2 linked regions of the Homo sapiens genome follow. The protein of the gene in region 2 binds, or shares a complex with, the protein of the main gene of each other region. Each region holds a gene or a part of one and is shown on either strand. Other genes may lie near its edges. A codon is read from its position in the direction of its gene.

The links.
Region 1: the proteins of SCARB2 (region 2) and GBA1 are in contact, whole or in part, in a cryo-EM structure (PDB 9FJF), measured with the Homo sapiens proteins. Residues at the interface, in NP_005497.1 of Homo sapiens: Lys161, Ala162, Tyr163, Gln164, Lys181, Glu183, Leu187, Phe191, Arg192; in NP_000148.2 of Homo sapiens: Leu130 (codon at 6,409), Asn131 (codon at 6,412), Ala134 (codon at 6,421), Ile169 (codon at 7,491), Glu190 (codon at 7,554), Lys194 (codon at 7,566), Leu195 (codon at 7,569), Pro430, Arg434, Ile445, Thr446, Asp448.

What each region holds. Positions count from the first base shown.
Region 1 is NC_000001.11:155,238,250-155,246,090, reverse strand, and holds the start of GBA1 (lysosomal acid glucosylceramidase isoform 1 precursor), read left to right. Parts: upstream 1-4,841; 5' UTR 4,842-4,978; coding exon 4,979-5,005; intron 5,006-5,373; coding exon 5,374-5,461; intron 5,462-6,013; coding exon 6,014-6,205; intron 6,206-6,328; coding exon 6,329-6,475; intron 6,476-7,440; coding exon 7,441-7,574; intron 7,575-7,784; coding exon 7,785-7,841. UniProt on the Homo sapiens protein: Glucosylceramidase that catalyzes, within the lysosomal compartment, the hydrolysis of glucosylceramides/GlcCers (such as beta-D-glucosyl-(1<->1')-N-acylsphing-4-enine) into free ceramides (such as N-acylsphing-4-enine) and glucose.
Region 2 is NC_000004.12:76,209,620-76,220,066, forward strand, and holds the start of SCARB2 (lysosome membrane protein 2), read right to left. Parts: upstream 4,206-10,447; 5' UTR 3,925-4,205; coding exon 3,808-3,924; intron 1-3,807.

The sequences.
Region 1 (7,841 bases), on a different chromosome or scaffold from region 2:
ATCAGTCTTTCACTTTTCCCAGCAATCCATTCTCCACTCAGCAAAATGATGATAAAGCACGTCACATCAAGGCTCTGCCTCAATTTAATGGCTTCCCATTGTATTTAGAATCATCTCCAAACTCCCAGAGACTATGGTCAGCTACAATCTGGCCCACCTTCTGTTCCAGCCAAATTTCCTCACAGCACAAGGACGTTTGCACCTGCTGTTTTCCAAGCATGAAACCCTTGGCCCCTATATCTGGTGCTATCACCTAATATCAGGTTTTAGCTCCATTCTCACCATTTCAGTGAGCACCCAATCCCCATCGCAGTCATTCTATCACATAGCCATGTTTTTTTTTGTTTGTTTGTTTCATTTTGTCTTTTTTTGAGACAGGGTCTTGCTTTGTTACCCAGGCTGGAGTGCAGTGGTGTGATTTGGGCTCACTGCAACCTTCCACCTCCTGGGTTCAAGCAATTCTCCTGCCTCAGCCTCCCGAGTAGCTGGGATTACAGGCGCCCGTCCCCATGCCCGCCCAGCTAAATTTTGTATTTTTAGAAGAGATAGGGTTTCACCATGTTGGCCAGGCGGGTCTCAAACTCCTGACCTCAAGTAATCCGCCTGCCTCGGTCTCCCAAAGTGCTGGGATTACAGGTGTGACTCACCGCGCCTGGCCACATACCCATGGTTTCAGCATGTATCACTATCTAAAATTATTATTTTTGTTTATATATCTGTGTCGTCCCATAGAATGTTAAGGTCCCAAGATCAGAAACTTGCTCATTGCAGTGGGTCTAACACTCAGTAGGTCCTCAACAAACATTCGTTAAGATACTAAAGTGGCAGGGTGGGGCCCTGTAAACAGCTTCAGGACCCTGTGCTTGTAGGGGCAACGTGGTGCCCTCCAAGGAAGACAGGGAGGTGGGAGGAGCACTGCCCAGAGATGGCGTCAGGCTGCAAGACTTCTTGAATAATTCAGCATCATAACAACCCAGCCTCAGGAAGGGATAGGGCACGGCCAGGACGAAACATTAGGAGGCGATGGACAATGGGATTCCCACGGGGCAGCTTCTGCGCACTGGACGTTCCCTAACCTGAGGCTCTCTAAAGAGGAAGGTTAGGAATCCTCTGAGCTTCGGTGGGCTGGACTCACTGTGGGAATTCAATCGCCCCCATCCACCAACAGTGTGCTGGCGGGAAAACGCCGACACGCATGCGTAGTTCTCGCGCCGGCTCCTCTCTCTCTCTCTCTCTCTCTCGCTCGCTCTCTCGCTCTCTCGCTCTCTCTCGCTCGCTCTCTCGCTCTCGCTCTCTCTCTCTCTCCGGCTCGCCAGCGACACTTGTTCGTTCAACTTGACCAATGAGACTTGAGGAAGGGCTCTGAGTCCCGCCTCTGCATGAGTGACCGTCTCTTTTCCAATCCAGGTCCCGCCCCGACTCCCCAGGGCTGCTTTTCTCGCGGCTGCGGGTGGTCGGGCTGCATCCTGCCTTCAGAGTCTTACTGCGCGGGGCCCCAGTCTCCAGTCCCGCCCAGGCGCCTTTGCAGGCTGCGGTGGGATTTCGTTTTGCCTCCGGTTGGGGCTGCTGTTTCTCTTCGCCGACGGTAGGCGTAATGAATATTTCGACCTTTGGATCTTAGCTGTCCCCTCCCTGCGTTCGCACTTAACCTTTTTCACCATTATTATTATTATTGTTATTATTATTATTTTTTGAGGGAGTCTCGCCCTGTCGCCCAGGCTGGAGTGTAATGGCGCCTTCTTGGCTCACTGCAACCTCCGCCTCCCGGGTTCAGGCGATTCTCCGACCTCAGCCTCCCAAGTACGTGGGATTACAGGCACCCGCCACCACGCACGGCTAATTTTTTGTATCTTTTAGTAGAGACGGGGTTTCACCATGTTGGTCAGGCTGGTCTCCAATTCCTGACCTCGTGATCCGCCCGCCTCGGCCTGCCAAACAGCTGTGATTATAGGCGTGAGCCACCGCGCCCGGCCAACCATCATTATTATTTTTAACGGTAAGGATGGTCAGATTTTACTAATGAAGAAGAGATTATAAAATCTTCAAGTCTTTATATCCACTTGCTTTTTGAGGGGTGGAGTGGGAAGAAGGTTATGTAATTCATACGTTCTTCAGACATGTGACAAACATTCACGGAGCCCGGCGACGAGCGTCGGGGTTGGGATTCGCACTGGAGCTGCAGATGGGTGCCAGGATGGACTGGTCCCTACCCTCCGCTTGAACCTAGGAGGCGGAGGTTGCAGTGAACCGAGATCGTGCCACTGCACTCCAGCCTGGGTGACAGAGATACTCCGTCTCAAAAAAAAAAACAAAACAAAAAACAAGCGGACTGGGCGCAGTGCCTCACCCTGTAATCCCAGCACTTTGCAAAGCCAAGGCGGGAGGATCCTTTGAGTTTAGGAGTTTGAGACCAACCTGCGCAACACAGTAAGACCCCGTCTCTACAAAAAATACAGAAATTAGCCAGGTGTGGTGGTGTGCGCCTATAGTCCCAGCTATTCTGGAGGCTGAGGTGGGAGGATTGCTTATTCTGGAGGCAGAGGTTGCACTGAGCCGAAATCAAGCTACTACACTCCATCCAGGGCAACATACGGAGACCCTGTCTCAAACAAACAAACAAAAAATTGCTCAGTACCTGGCCAAAAAAGAAGAGGCTCACTATGCAGAGGGGAAGTGGAAGGAGATGTTTGGACTTCTAAACTCAATAGAGCAGGAGAGGCAAATGTAGAATGTGCTCAGGAAATATCTGTGAGATGAATGAACTTGAGGGAAGTAAGGTACTAGATATTACCTGCCCTACCCAGAACAAATCCTGTGCAATGTTTCCTTGAAAAGTGAGAAGTCTGGAAGGGGTGGCTACTGACATAGTGAAGCAACTAGTTCAATTCTACAACTTGACAGCTACCCCTGTGCCAGGCTATCTACGAGGATACTTAGAATGCATAAGACATTCCTTCAAGGAACTCCAGGAACAGAGGCCTGACATGTTGCAATGTTTAGTGTCAAGCAGTGTACTAGAGACACATTATCACACTCAAACCTCACAACAATTCTGTGAGGTAGGAGTTATCACTCCCCTTTTATAGATGAAACAGAGGCTTAGAGTGATTGATTTATTGAAAGTCAAACAGCCAGTAAATGGTGTAGCCAGGATTCCAAACTTGCTGTCTCACTGAGACTGTACTTAATTACTGGAGGGACCGGGTGTGGTGGCTCATTGCTATAATCCCAACACCTTGGGAGGCTGAGGCTGGTGGATCACCTGAGGTCAGGGGTTCGAGACCAGCCTGGCCAACATGGTGAAACCCCATCTCTACTAAAAATACAAAAATTAGCTGGGCATGGTGGTGGGCTCCTGTAATCCCAGCTACTCAGGAGGCTGAGGCAGGGCAATTGCTTGAGCCGAGATCACACTGCACTCCAGCCTGGGCAACAGGGCAAGACTCTGTCTCAAAACCAAAAAAAAAAAAATTACTGGAGGAACCTAGAAGAAGAAATGATCAATTTTGCTTGGAGTGTATCTAGAAAGACTTCACTGAGATCATTTAAAGAACAAAAAGGATGGCTGGGGTCCAGCGCAGTGGCTCATGCCTGTAATCCCAGCACTTTCGGATACCAAGGCAGCAGATCACCTGAGGTCCAGAGTTTCAGACCAGCCTGGCCAACATAGTGAAACCCCATCTCTACTAAAAATAAAAAAATTAGCTGAGCATGTTGGAGGGCACCTGTAATCCCAGCTACTTGGGAGGCTGAGGCAGGAGAATCACTCGAACCCAGGAGGTGGAGGTTGCAGTGAGCCAAGATCACGCCACTGCACTCCAGCCTGGGCAACAGAGTGAGACTCTGTCTCAAAAAACAACAACAACAAAAAATACAAACAAGAGACAAGTAGTTCCCAGGTGCCTACCAAGTGGTCAGGCACTGCACTTACCTCACTGACTGCAGTAACCACCCTTTGAGGTTGTGGCATTGCCTCCATTTTCCAGGCAAGGAAATGGGCTGAGAGCTGGGATTAGTCAGGTCATGACTGTGTGTGCCACTCCCGCTAAATCTCATTTGATGTGGTTCATGAGGCCACACCATGGACAGCTTCCTCCTTGTGTCCACTGAGGATATGGCTTTGTACAACACTTTGGTTTTTGAACGACTTTACAAACCTCCCTGTCTTGTGAGGAAGGAAGAACAGTTATTACCATCTGCATCTGATGATGAAACAAGGGACGCTGCAGAGGAGCCGCACTGACCACTCCCTCCCTCCAGTCCTGTCATCCCACTGCCAGTGTCCCACCCTCTTGTGCCCTGCACTTCACTGGCTAATAACCCCCCTCACTTTTTCCTCTGTGAAGCCATCCTGGATAATTCCCCACCCACGAATGGTCCCTCCTCATCTCAGAGAGCTCTCCATGCACACCTGTTACCGTTTCTGTCTTTATCTGTAAATATCTGTGTGTCTGACTTCCATGCCTCACACACCTCTATAGGGCAAAGACTGTCTTAAACATCTTGGTAGTGTCAGTATTTTGCACAGTGAAGTTTTTTTTTTTAAATTATATCAGCTTTATTTGTACCTTTTTGACATTTCTATCAAAAAAGAAGTGTGCCTGCTGTGGTTCCCATCCTCTGGGATTTAGGAGCCTCTACCCCATTCTCCATGCAAATCTGTGTTCTAGGCTCTTCCTAAAGTTGTCACCCATACATGCCCTCCAGAGTTTTATAGGGCATATAATCTGTAACAGATGAGAGGAAGCCAATTGCCCTTTAGAAATATGGCTGTGATTGCCTCACTTCCTGTGTCATGTGACGCTCCTAGTCATCACATGACCCATCCACATCGGGAAGCCGGAATTACTTGCAGGGCTAACCTAGTGCCTATAGCTAAGGCAGGTACCTGCATCCTTGTTTTTGTTTAGTGGATCCTCTATCCTTCAGAGACTCTGGAACCCCTGTGGTCTTCTCTTCATCTAATGACCCTGAGGGGATGGAGTTTTCAAGTCCTTCCAGAGAGGTAAGAGAGAGAGCTCCCAATCAGCATTGTCACAGTGCTTCTGGAATCCTGGCACTGGAATTTAATGAATGACAGACTCTCTTTGAATCCAGGGCCATCATGGCTCTTTGAGCAAGGCACAGATGGAGGGAGGGGTCGAAGTTGAAATGGGTGGGAAGAGTGGTGGGGAGCATCCTGATTTGGGGTGGGCAGAGAGTTGTCATCAGAAGGGTTGCAGGGAGAGCTGCACCCAGGTTTCTGTGGGCCTTGTCCTAATGAATGTGGGAGACCGGGCCATGGGCACCCAAAGGCAGCTAAGCCCTGCCCAGGAGAGTAGTTGAGGGGTGGAGAGGGGCTTGCTTTTCAGTCATTCCTCATTCTGTCCTCAGGAATGTCCCAAGCCTTTGAGTAGGGTAAGCATCATGGCTGGCAGCCTCACAGGATTGCTTCTACTTCAGGCAGTGTCGTGGGCATCAGGTGAGTGAGTCAAGGCAGTGGGGAGGTAGCACAGAGCCTCCCTTCTGCCTCATAGTCCTTTGGTAGCCTTCCAGTAAGCTGGTGGTAGACTTTTAGTAGGTGCTCAATAAATCCTTTTGAGTGACTGAGACCAACTTTGGGGTGAGGATTTTGTTTTTTTTCTTTTGAAACAGAGTCTTACTCTGTTGCCTGGGCTGGAGTGCAGTGGTGCAATTTTGGCTCATTCCAACCTCTGCCTCCCAGATTCAAGCGATTCTCTTGCTTCAGCTTCCCAGGTAGCTGGGATTACAGGCGGCCACCACTACGCCCAGCTAATTTTTGTATTTTTAGTAGAGACGGGGTTTCACCATGCTGGCAAGGCAGGTCTCAAACTCCTCACCTCAGGTGATCCGCCCACCTCGGCCTCCTAAAGTGCTAGGATTACAGGTGTGAGCCCCTGCGCCCGGCCAAGGGGTGAGGAATTTTGAAACCGTGTTCAGTCTCTCCTAGCAGATGTGTCCATTCTCCATGTCTTCATCAGACCTCACTCTGCTTGTACTCCCTCCCTCCCAGGTGCCCGCCCCTGCATCCCTAAAAGCTTCGGCTACAGCTCGGTGGTGTGTGTCTGCAATGCCACATACTGTGACTCCTTTGACCCCCCGACCTTTCCTGCCCTTGGTACCTTCAGCCGCTATGAGAGTACACGCAGTGGGCGACGGATGGAGCTGAGTATGGGGCCCATCCAGGCTAATCACACGGGCACAGGTAACCATTACACCCCTCACCCCCTGGGCCAGGCTGGGTCCTCCTAGAGGTAAATGGTGTCAGTGATCACCATGGAGTTTCCCGCTGGGTACTGATACCCTTATTCCCTGTGGATGTCCTCAGGCCTGCTACTGACCCTGCAGCCAGAACAGAAGTTCCAGAAAGTGAAGGGATTTGGAGGGGCCATGACAGATGCTGCTGCTCTCAACATCCTTGCCCTGTCACCCCCTGCCCAAAATTTGCTACTTAAATCGTACTTCTCTGAAGAAGGTGAGGAGGAAGGGGACAAGATGACATAGAGCCATTGAAACTTTTCGTTTTTCTTTTCTTTTTTTAAAATTTTTTTGAGGCAGAATCTCACTCTGCCCATTCTGTCGGCGAGACAGGAGTGCAGTGGTGTGATCTCCCCTCACAGCAACCTCTGCCTCCCAGGCTATAGTGATTCTCCTGCCTCAGCCTCCTGAGTAGCTGGAATTATAGGCGTGCGCCACTACCACCTGGCTAATTTTTGTATTTTTAGTAGAGACAGGGTTTCATCATGTTGACCAGGCTAGTCTTAAACTCCTGACCTCAAATGATATACCTGCCTTGGCCTCCCGAAGTGCTGGAATTACAAGTGTGAGCCACCGAGCCCAGCAGACACTTTTCTTTTTTCTTTTTTTTTTTTTGAGACAGAGTCTCGCACTGTCACCCAGGCTGGAGTGCAGTGGCACAATCTCAGCTCACTGCAACCTCCACCTCCCGGGTTCAGGTGATTCTCCTGTCTCAGCCTCTCGAGTACCTGGGATTACAGGTGCCTGCCACCACGCCCGGCTAATTTTTTGTATTTTTAGTAGAGACAGGGTTTCACTATGTTGGCCAGGATGATTGCGAACTCCTGACCTCGTGATCTGCCCACATCGGCCTCCCAAAGTGCTGGGATTACATGCGTGAGCCACTGACACTTTTCTTTGCCCTTTCTTTGGACCCTGACTTCTGCCCATCCCTGACATTTGGTTCCTGTTTTAATGCCCTGTGAAATAAGATTTCACCGCCTATCATCTGCTAACTGCTACGGACTCAGGCTCAGAAAGGCCTGCGCTTCACCCAGGTGCCAGCCTCCACAGGTTCCAACCCAGGAGCCCAAGTTCCCTTTGGCCCTGACTCAGACACTATTAGGACTGGCAAGTGATAAGCAGAGTCCCATACTCTCCTATTGACTCGGACTACCATATCTTGATCATCCTTTTCTGTAGGAATCGGATATAACATCATCCGGGTACCCATGGCCAGCTGTGACTTCTCCATCCGCACCTACACCTATGCAGACACCCCTGATGATTTCCAGTTGCACAACTTCAGCCTCCCAGAGGAAGATACCAAGCTCAAGGTAGGCATTCTAGCTTTTTCAGGCCCTGAGGGCCCTGATGTCTGGGGGTTGAGAAACTGTAGGGTAGGTCTGCTTGTACAGACATTTTGTCCCCTGCTGTTTTGTCCTGGGGGTGGGAGGGTGGAGGCTAATGGCTGAACCGGATGCACTGGTTGGGCTAGTATGTGTTCCAACTCTGGGTGCTTCTCTCTTCACTACCTTTGTCTCTAGATACCCCTGATTCACCGAGCCCTGCAGTTGGCCCAGCGTCCCGTTTCACTCCTTGCC
Region 2 (10,447 bases):
GCCTCCCAAAGTGTTAGGATAACAGGCGTGAGCCACCACGCCTGGCCTATATTTTACTTCTTGAGGAATCGGTAGAACAGCTCCAGAGTTTCTATGGCTCCCAAAAGAAACCAGCTGGTACTGACTTGCCCAGAGCCTCAGGTCCAGATGAAGGGGAAGTGTATTTGTCCTGTTCATTGCATCTCTGAGACCTAATGCTACAGTCCTGCCTTGACCTGTGAAGAGGAAGTCAAAGGTGTAAACAGTCTCCCACTGGTTCCCTTGCCATCCCATCCCTTGTTGGCCAGCCCTGACTGTGGCCAGTTCTGCATCCCTATTACTGGGAGACAGTCAACCTGCCAGCACGTCTGCAGAGATTAGGAGCGCAAACTTAATATTCTGAACTGCATAGCTGCTCTTAAAGGTCATGGGATCTCAGAAGTTTGGAGCTAAGAGGAACCATAGCTTGTATAATAAGTTTCAATTCACAGATGACAAATATAGCTAAAGACATAACAACTGTTAACGTTCAGGCATTGTGCGAGGCATTGTGCTGGGTGCTTTATAGATATCATATTATTTCATTCTTGTGACAACTCTGAGTTAAGTATTCTTATCCTTATTGTTCCTATTTTCAAAATGAGGATCCTTAGGATTTGAGGGATTAAATAACTTGCCACTGTGCTTGTTCAGCTTAGTCCAAGAAATCCTTAGGGACAGAAAAAAAATGTTTGATTCAGTTCTGCTGATTCTCAGGACACTCTTCTTTCTATTAAAATGATCACAGGCGAGTGAAGAGGCATTTAATATGTATCTCAGGCACTGTGCTAGGTGTCAAGGCAGTTCACTGGGATACCAGATGAAATGTAACGTAAACTCCTGCCTTTCCAGGCCTAAGGGAGGAAAAGGAACTGCTGGGTCTCTGCAAAGCTCTCTCTTCATGAAGGCCCAAACGCTTGTAAGGAAATGCCTTATTAATGCTCACAATATCCCCTAGGAAGAGGGTGTGGGAAAAAGAGAAGTACTATTATGCCTCTCTTGCAAATGAGAAAATTGAAGCAGAAACAATTACAGGCCTTGCCCAATACGAGGCAGTCACCACTGAGGCCAAAAATGAAACAAAATTGTCTTGGTTCCTTCCACGATATTCACTGGCCAAAATTAAAAGTCTCTCTTCAGTTACCTCTGGTCACTGCAGGGTTCAAGGACAATTATCATTTGAGACAACTTTTTGGATAGGAATTCTCTTACTAAGCTTCCCACACCTACTCATTTGAATTTCATCCCTTTTCCCTCTTCCCTTTTTGACATAGACAAGTCGGGGCATAGACAATCTTCAAATGAAAAAACAAAGAACTGGAAATATCAGAGTAGATTATATTATAACTACATTAGAATCAAGTTATGAATGAATTCTCCCATAGTAATACTAGTGGCAATAAAGATGACTGCCACATATTGATTACCTATTCTGTGCCTGATACTATGCTAAGTGCTTTATACTTGGTCCTACAATAATACACATGCAGAGACAAATCCAGGTTTTGTGGGTCCTGAAGCTTATACAATTTGAAGGGTCCTTCTTAAGAAAAAAGAAAATTTGGGATATAGAATGAGGTACAGGGCTTCGCAAGGGTCTGTGCAAGTGAGAGACCCAAAGCTTAACTTTGCGAGTTTCATGGTAAATGCATCACTGTGCCCAAGTTAGCTAACAGCTCATATCCCCAGTTTTACAAGCAATGAAATTGAGGACCAAGTAAGTTATTTGACGTAAGTCATAAAGCTTATACTGGCAAGGATAGGATTTGAACATATGGAATCTGACTCCAAATCTCACGTATTTTCTTTGTGTGGCTTCTAATAAAAATAAAGTTGCTATCACCTATTAAGCACTAACTATATCCCAGAAAGATCACACCTTAAGGTTATAAGAATTATTTGACAAAGCAGATGTGATCGTTAGTCCTTATTATCCCTATTTACAGATGGGGAAAACATGAATCAAGTAAGATTAAACAGCCCACGGTCACCGAGCTGGGACATAGTGGAAGCTAGGTTTCATGCCCAGGAGTGTAACATCCTCAATCTTTCCCACTGTCCCATGCTACCTACCACCCTACAGGTAATCCAGGAAAAAGCAGAATAGCGATGTGTGACTTACCTCTAATGACAACAGTATTTCCACACCTGCCCACTGAAACTAGCCCTGTCCTTTAGTTTCATACAATACACCGTGCAGTCCTCCTTAGCTGGGATTGAGCAGCTCTGAAAGTCCACTTCCCTGTACTATTACTTATCAGAACAGAGTCCATTCCTCATGGAGAAAAACACTTGGAAATATCAACACAAACTCAGGCCCCAGCCAAGTTGCCTTACAGCCACCCCCTCACCCAGAGAAATGGAGACACACAGAGAATCTAAGGGCTGGCTATATGGGAACCACGGGGAAGATCACTCATCCTATAGGGCTCCTTGAAACAGCCTTTCAAGGCCATATAAGAAAACTCACATATTTACTATAATTGGATTGCTTTACTCTAGTCACCCAAAGCAAGAGTTTACATCCTCAAACACAGCTCACCATGGATTTGGACATGGACAGGAGTGGAGAAAGGATTCAGTTTCTTTTTTCCTTGAACATGATTGCTCAAAGGAAACTGACCCTCGAGACGCTCAGACAGTGGGCCTTGTCTTCCCTTGGCAATGTGAACTTTAAAAATTACATTATGCTTTGCCATGGTGCTTTTTGAAAAACTGCCTTTAACTGCCAGATTTCAGGTACTCACTTAATTACTTTTGGAAACTCAGTTAAAGGAAGATATCCATTGCCACCTGGAATAAAATAGCTTTACTGACTGGAGAGTGCAGTGATTCAAAGTAGACTAGGCCTGGGCTTTTTTATCTGGCCGCAGCAAGTGCAGACCAGTGGGAGAAATGAAGCGTGCAGTTATGGATGCTAACAAGAAAGGCTGCTGCTCCAGTGATTATTTTTCTTTTTTAAGGAAAAAATGATCCCAGTAATTCTCTTTTGTTCCTCTTTTGACACAGCTTGGTGGATGTGGGGGAAAGGGCAGATGAAATGACCAGTGAAATCAAAAGATGAAGTCTTCTTAAAGGACTGGCTCTCCAGCCCAATCATCTAGAGGAAGAGACAAGTTCAGATTCTTGTAGGGTATCTAAATGCATCTGTGCCTGAAAATTATGGCCGTTTGAGAAAAACAAGAATTCATGGTGAGACAAAGCAACACAGACTGTTGGTACAAGATACAAAGCCACTAAGTCAGCGTTCAGCAAAGACTGATGGATGAATTGTCACCCAGCCTAAAGGACTGGCCCAGCTACCAACTGCCCCTGCCCAGCCCAAGAGGGCAAGAACACAATAGACCGCACACCCACGTCTCATCCCCAGGCGCACACCACTTCAAAGGCTACAGCAAGCAGACAACATAACCTGCCTCTTCTGCGGTGTCTTTCATTCAGTTCTGTTTCTTCATGAAGTGGGAAGGAAACAAGTTTGGGCCCACCTGAGATTGGGGTGTAGACGGAAGGAGTGGGGAGAGATGCAAACGACAGAACACAACCGAAGGCCTTTTTAAAAGTCAGGATCCATAGCCTTACTTATCACTGTAAAGGGAACAGAGTCGGCTCCATCCTTCCTCATCCTTCTTTAACCCTCGCCTACCAAGCCCTGGAAGACAGGGACGCAAGAAGAGCTCTAGCGCGGAGGGTCTGCCTGAGTGCTGGTCTTTCCCATACAAGATGTAGCAGCAGGGATGGGAGGGTGAGCTGGACGACTCCACAACACACACACAGCCCGCCCCGCCTCACCTTCTCGATACTCTGGTCTACAGCCTTCTGGAAGACCCGGGCCACCAGCAGCGTGACGCTGGTCACCAGCAGGAGCAGGGACAACGTCCCCGCCGTGTAGAAGCAGCATCGGCCCATTCTGTGCGCCGCTCACGGGCCGGGCCGGGCCGCACCCGCCAGGGATCCAACTGCAAGGAGGGAGGAGCCGCCGCAGAGGCGTCGAAGACCCGGGACCCTTCGGCGCCACGCCCACGCCCTCCCGGCGCACGGTTCGTGCGCGCAGCTCTGGGCTCCGCGGCCTGGCGAGCGCGGCCCCGGGTGCACCGGGCGGATGGGGCCGCGGAGGGACGGGCCCGGACTCGGTTTCGGTTTCCTTCGCCGGGCAGCCGTGGCGCCCGCCTAGCGCAGCTCGGGAGAGTGCAGGGAGCGCGCAGGGACGTGACGTTCGCGGGCCGGGCTCGCCGCAACCCCGCGAGGCAACCGCCGGCGACTGCGCGGGGAGGCGGGCGGGGGCGGAGGCCGCAGTCATGTGCCCTGCGGCGGCGGCAGTGATTCGGCCCGCGCCCTCCCCGGCCGGTCCCCGGTGGCCCTGAGTGGCTGCGGCGCCTGAGCCAGGCCCGGCCTGGCCGCTCCCAGCGCCCTGCACCGCAGGCCCAGCGCTCGCCCCACCGAAATTGCCGAACCTGGTTCACACACTCATTTACTCATTCCGCAGATAGGTCTGAGGGCCTCCCATGGGCCACGCGCTGGGGATTCAAGGTGGCTGGGACATTCCCCTGCTCTAGAGGCGCTCGCAAGTTAGCGGGGACACCGTTACCGCAATTACAACACAATGTAGCAAGTGCTTCTACCAGGTGCCTGCTGAGATCATGCCAGCAAGCATGTTCTGCCTGGATGACCTAGGGCCCCACATTGAACTGGGGCCTGGGGGATGCATAAGTTTGTCACGTAAGGGGCATGTGCAAGAATGGAAGATGTGCAAAAAAGGGAGGAGGAGGCATTTCACGGAGAAGGAAACGGTGAGCAAAGGCATTGGGGGTGAAAGAGCAAAACCTGTAGGAAGCAAGAAGGAAGTTCCTTTTGACTGTAGGCTCAGGTGTTCAGGGGGTGGAGTCGGAGGTGTTGAGGCCCCAAGAGGTCAGACTTTGAAGGGCTCTTGGTATCCTGTTAAAGATGTGGAAGTTGGGAAGGAGCTTAAAGCAGGCATCGCTGGTGTTCTTGCCTGCTTTGCTCACTGTGGTGTCCCAGACACCCAGGACCAAGACCTGCACACAGCCAGGACTCAAGAAGTGTTCGTTAAATGAGTGTTTCTTCTACGCCAGCCCTTTACTAGTTTCTTTGCACAGTTCTACTCATTTAATACCCTTGGCAGTCCTATGAATAGGAGGTTGTGTTTGTCCCAGTCCTCCAGAAACAGTCCCAGATGGGGGTACTATGCAAGAGAGTTTTGAGGGAAAACAGGGAGCTGGACCTGGGATGCAGGTGTGATCCTTGTGAAGGAAAGAGGCAAGCAAGGAAGGAAGGTTGGGTGGAAGGAAGCATTTGATATATATACAGTCCATGTATAAAAAGTTCAGCAAGGCCATTGGGGTGGGGAATCCTTTAGCCAAATGGGCTTGTCCCAGAAGTCTGGCATCTCCCAGAAAGAGGCCCGCCTTAGTATCCCTGCTGTGCTCAGTCATGAGCTGGGAGCAGCCTTAGGAAGCTGGCCTTTGCAGCAACCTAGGGATAAATATCAGGGTATGGATTTCAGCAGAGCTCAGCAGTTGAGGCGGAGCCATTGGTCAGTTATGCTATCTACACTGCAAGATCCAAGAAGTACATTTTCTTGGCAACTATAGTGTATTATCCTCATTTTACACTCAAGAACACTGGGGCTCTGAGTTAAGTAACCTAACAAGCTCAACTGGTTGCTGAGTGGTGGATCCTGCTTGAACCAGGATGTAGGGCTGGCTGTTGGCTTCCAAAACCCTCACTTTTTCTACTCTGCGCATTGCTGCATCCCGATCTGTCACTAATGAGAATCTGAGGACAGCAAATCAGTTAGGAGGCTTTGTTGAGGACTTGGTGAGATAGCATGATGGTTTAAAAATGGTGGCAAATTATTTGTTACTCCTTTCGTTGAGAGGTGGGGTCTATACTTTCTCGCTTTGAATTTGGGCAGGTTTTAGCAATTTGTTAAACCAATAGAATACAGTGGAAATGACCATATCCTGGAACTTCTGAAGCTAGATCATAAATGCCTTGCAACTTCTGCTGGGGCCTTTGCAAATTCTTGCTCTTGGAGCCTCAAGTCACCCCTAAGTTCAGCTACCCGGAGACTGCTGCAGAGAACATGGGAAAGACTGTGGGGAGAAGCCCTGAGTCTGTAGGAAGAGAAATGTCCCACCAGTCCCCAGCTGTCCCTAGCCTTTTGAGTCACAGGCCCTAGACATTACAGAGCAGAGGTGAGTGGTCCCTGCTGAGCCCTGCTCAAAATGCAAAATAAAGGATTGTTGTTGTTTAAGCCACTGAGTGTTGGTGTGGTAGGTTACTCAGTAGATAACTGGAGCAGATGGTAAGGGCAGAACTGAGGCTGGGACATTTTGTAGCTACCAAAGCTCTTCAAGCAGCAGCCCCAGAGGACCAGTCCTGTGTTCAAATAGAACCTGGTGGGGTCCTGAATGATTCAACTGTCCCCAGCCTGATGGGTGGGTGGTCTCCAGTCCTCAGGTGTCCACAATCGGCAGCCTTTCTCTTCCCCTAATCCTGCCTCTTCTCTGCTGTTAAGTTTCAGTTAGCTACATTAACTCTGCTCTGTGCCCCAGTTTGCTTAAGGAGCAATGCTAGCCCACTAACCCTCACATGTCCCCTACCTAGGCATTGGTTGAAGTCCTCCTGTCATCTATATGTCCTCTCCTTCCCTAACTAGAAAAAAAAATTTGGTAACTTGCCTGCCTAGGTACTTTGGCACTCAGAAGTTCATGCTCACACTGAACTTCCACCCCCTACTCTCTGACTGCTACAATCAGATTTTCTGTTTGCGGGCTCCATTCTGGAGGGCAAACTCCATAGGTACCCACTCCTCCCATCCCTGGACCACCAATCCCAGGGTACTCTTCCTTTTCATTGTTCATTGAGGTCCCTTCTTCTCTCTTGTCTGGGCCACCAGGACAGTAACAGACTGTGGGGATGGAGAGATGGAGACAAATTTGATAAATGTATCTTAGTGTGGGAGAGTTTCTAAACAAGGGTTTACAGCTCAAGTTGCCCTCAGTTTACCTGCTCTCTGAGGATCTCACTCTGTTTCCACTATGTCAGGCGGTTAGTAAGCCACTTCCCCTTTAAAACTCTGGACAAGCCGAATGAAAATCTCTTTCTTGGTTCTTCTTAACACAGCTGACCAGGCTAGCATTTTTAAATGTGTTAACATAAGACAGAACAAAAAGGACCTAATTACAGAAAATATAAACAGCTTTTAAGAAAATAATGTATGTTCCCAAAATAGCAGTCTGTGATCCCACAGTAATCTCTGTCTTATCACCGAGGCTGGCATAACTTTTTAGCAGCTGGCCTGGCTGTCTTTCTGTTCAGTTCCATCTTCTCTACCCACAGCTATGTTCAGAAGCTTTTGACACAAAGCCCCAAAATCCAGATTTAAGTTTCTCAATGCCCTTTGGGACTTCCTCCTCATTTCTGATCTATAGGACATGTCTGCACCGCTAATTGGCATTGTTAGTTTATTGCCACAGGATCATCTCACCCTATGAGAGACTTTGCCCTCTCATCCAGGGAGTAGCCCCTGCTTGCCAGCCACTAATAACCCTGAACACACTCTGGAGGGGCAGACAGCTTGGGAAGGGGTTACTGCTCCCAGAGTTTAGATGAGGAGGCTGATGCCAGGGCAGGGAGACAATCAGGACTCTTCCTGGTGACTTCTCTGCTATGGTTTGGATTTGTGTTCCCTCCAAATCTCATGTTGAAATTTGATCCCCAGTGTTGGAGGTGGGGCCTAATGGGAGGTGTTTGGGTCCTGAGGAGAGATTGTTCATGAATAGATTAATGCCTCCCTCAGGCATGAGTGAGTTGTCAGAGAGCGGGTTGTTGAAAAGAGCTGGCACCTCCTCCTTCTCTCTCTAGCTTCCTCTCTGCCCATGTGCCTCACACAGGTGTGCTCCCTTTCTGCCTTCCCAGGAGTGGAAGCAGCCTGAGGCCCTCATCCAATGCAGATGTCTGTGCCGTGCGTCTTGTCCAGCCTGCAGAACCATGAGCCAAATAAACCTCTTTTCACTACCCAATCTCAGGTATTGTTATAGCAACACAAACAGACAAGGGCGGAAAATGAGGAGACTGATGCTGTGGCAAGGAGATACGGTGATCTCTCTATACCTAAAATCAGAAGACTTTATCTGAGAAGAACAAGTACACTTAATGAATGATTGCTGGTGCCTGTTGAAATTATGCAATCATTCGGGACTTAGAAAAAGAGCTTTCTTCACAGACTCTAAGGGCTATCGAGGGGAAGCAAGAGGGCTCTTTGGGCTCTACCTTAAATTTAGAATGTTGATACTATACTCAAATGAGTTTAATGATGTAGTCATTGTATACTTTTATGTTCAAAGTGTTAATGTGTTAAATATAAACATTTAAAATACACCACAGGCCGGGCCAGGTGGCTCATGCCTGTAATCCCAGCATTTTGGGAAGCCAAGGCAGGAGAATCACTTGATCCCAGGAGTTTGAATGGAAATGGCCCTAGGCCTTGCCTACTTTGGGACAGGTCAGGCTCCAAGATACTTCTAAAAGTCTTGGCTTTCTTCTTATTGAAGGTGATCTATAAAATGTACCATCACACCCTAGTGATTTGACATATGTTATTCCTAAATGTTTGTGGGGCATCCTAAATCCTGAGCAATACAGCCTCCATAAGAAAAAATTACTCTCTCCTCCCTCCTCCCCTACCCATCATTCCAAAGTTCTTACATTACAGAACTGCTTTATGCAGATAGGCTTACATATCCCAGAGGAGAGCTCATATACCATTTATATTATATCACATGCACCTGTGCCAGGCCACAGGGACTCTCTGTGAAGTTACCCATGTCCCTGTCTACCGCCTCCTCCGATCAAGAAGACCTCATGGCTTCCTCATTATCATCTTTGCACCCCCAACTAGGGGAATCTTTTCCAGTTTGTTTTGGTTTGGTTTGGTTTTTATTTTGTTTGGGGTTATGGGAAAATGAGAATTCCCCTCTTCAAATTCTTATTTTCCTTTTTGTTCCCCTAATAATGCAGACTTATTGAAACACGGAACTAGGAGGAGATATCCTATTCACCTTTTTCTCTTCCCTTTCCTGAAAACACAAGCGTAGTGTTGTCTAACTAATAGAATGTGTGGTTGGAGGGCGAGGAGTCAGGAGATCAAAGAGGAGAAAAATATAGTGGGCAAAAAGGGTGAATATGTCAGCAATATTATCTGCTACTTGTACATAGTACTTGTACAAGCACTATGCTAGACAGTGGGCTTGCATTACTTCATTTACTCCTTACAATGCCCTATGATGTAGACATTCTATTTTAAGGATAAGGAAACTGAGGCACACAGAGATTGACTAAGTAGTCCAATGTTACTGGCCAGTAGGAAGCAAAGGTATTACTAAATCCAAGTCAGTCAGATGCTTTAGCCAGGCTCTTAACCCCTTAGCCACTGCTTGGGACTTCTGGCCTCATGCTTATTAAGAGTAAAAGGAAAGCAGTGAAAATTGCAAAAAATAAAAATAAAAATAAGCAATGGCACTGGAATACTCATGGTGACCTGGGCATCCAGGAGGGGCACAGGTTGGAATTAGTGTGTGTGGGAGACAATGCCTCTGCCTGAACCTGATGTTGAACTAGAATGGAGAGCCAGGAAGGAGTTGCCAGTCCGGTGGCCAAAAATATACTTTGCAATATATCTAATGTATATTCTGACGTGAAATGTATTCTAGTCTGTTCTCACTTGAGGTACTTTGATGGTACTTTCTAGAAGCAAATGAAGCTTGGGTTGGGTTTAAACTCACTGTGGCAAAGCCAGCATATTGTGAAATATCAAGGCTGTCTGATTTCCTGCATGTTGTGAAATCAGGGCTAAATAAACAACACGAGAGGTCACAGTTATTCTTTAATGATGTGTTCCATGGGGAGAAGCTGTATAAACGAGAAAGCCAGGTTTACTCAGCATCTCTTTCTGAGGGGAGAAAGGGGGGATGGAGAGTGAAGAGGGGACTGTCTGAGGGTAGAGGCAGACTTTGTCAGCCTGGAGTGGTGGGGAGAAGATATTTGGCCAGAGATAGGGGTGCAGTAGTGGAATGGGGAATGGGGGGCTTAGATATTAGACTATGGAAAGGGTAAAAATAAGCCCCGCCCCTCACCACTAACCTGGTCCCCGCATGACTTCTAACCACTGCACTCACCACATATCCTGAGAGTCTGAAATGATTACCTAGAAGCCTCCTATACTCATCAAACCTCAGAGAAGACTGCTATTCAGTTAACTTTACAACAGTTGTAAGCATTTCCAGTTCTTTCATAAATAAATACTGTTTCTTTTTAGTGTCAATGAAAAACGTTTCAGAATATTAATGAGTAGTGTTTGCTTCAATTGCACTGCAAGCTATCTTAAGCAGAACTGTTTCCTCCATTT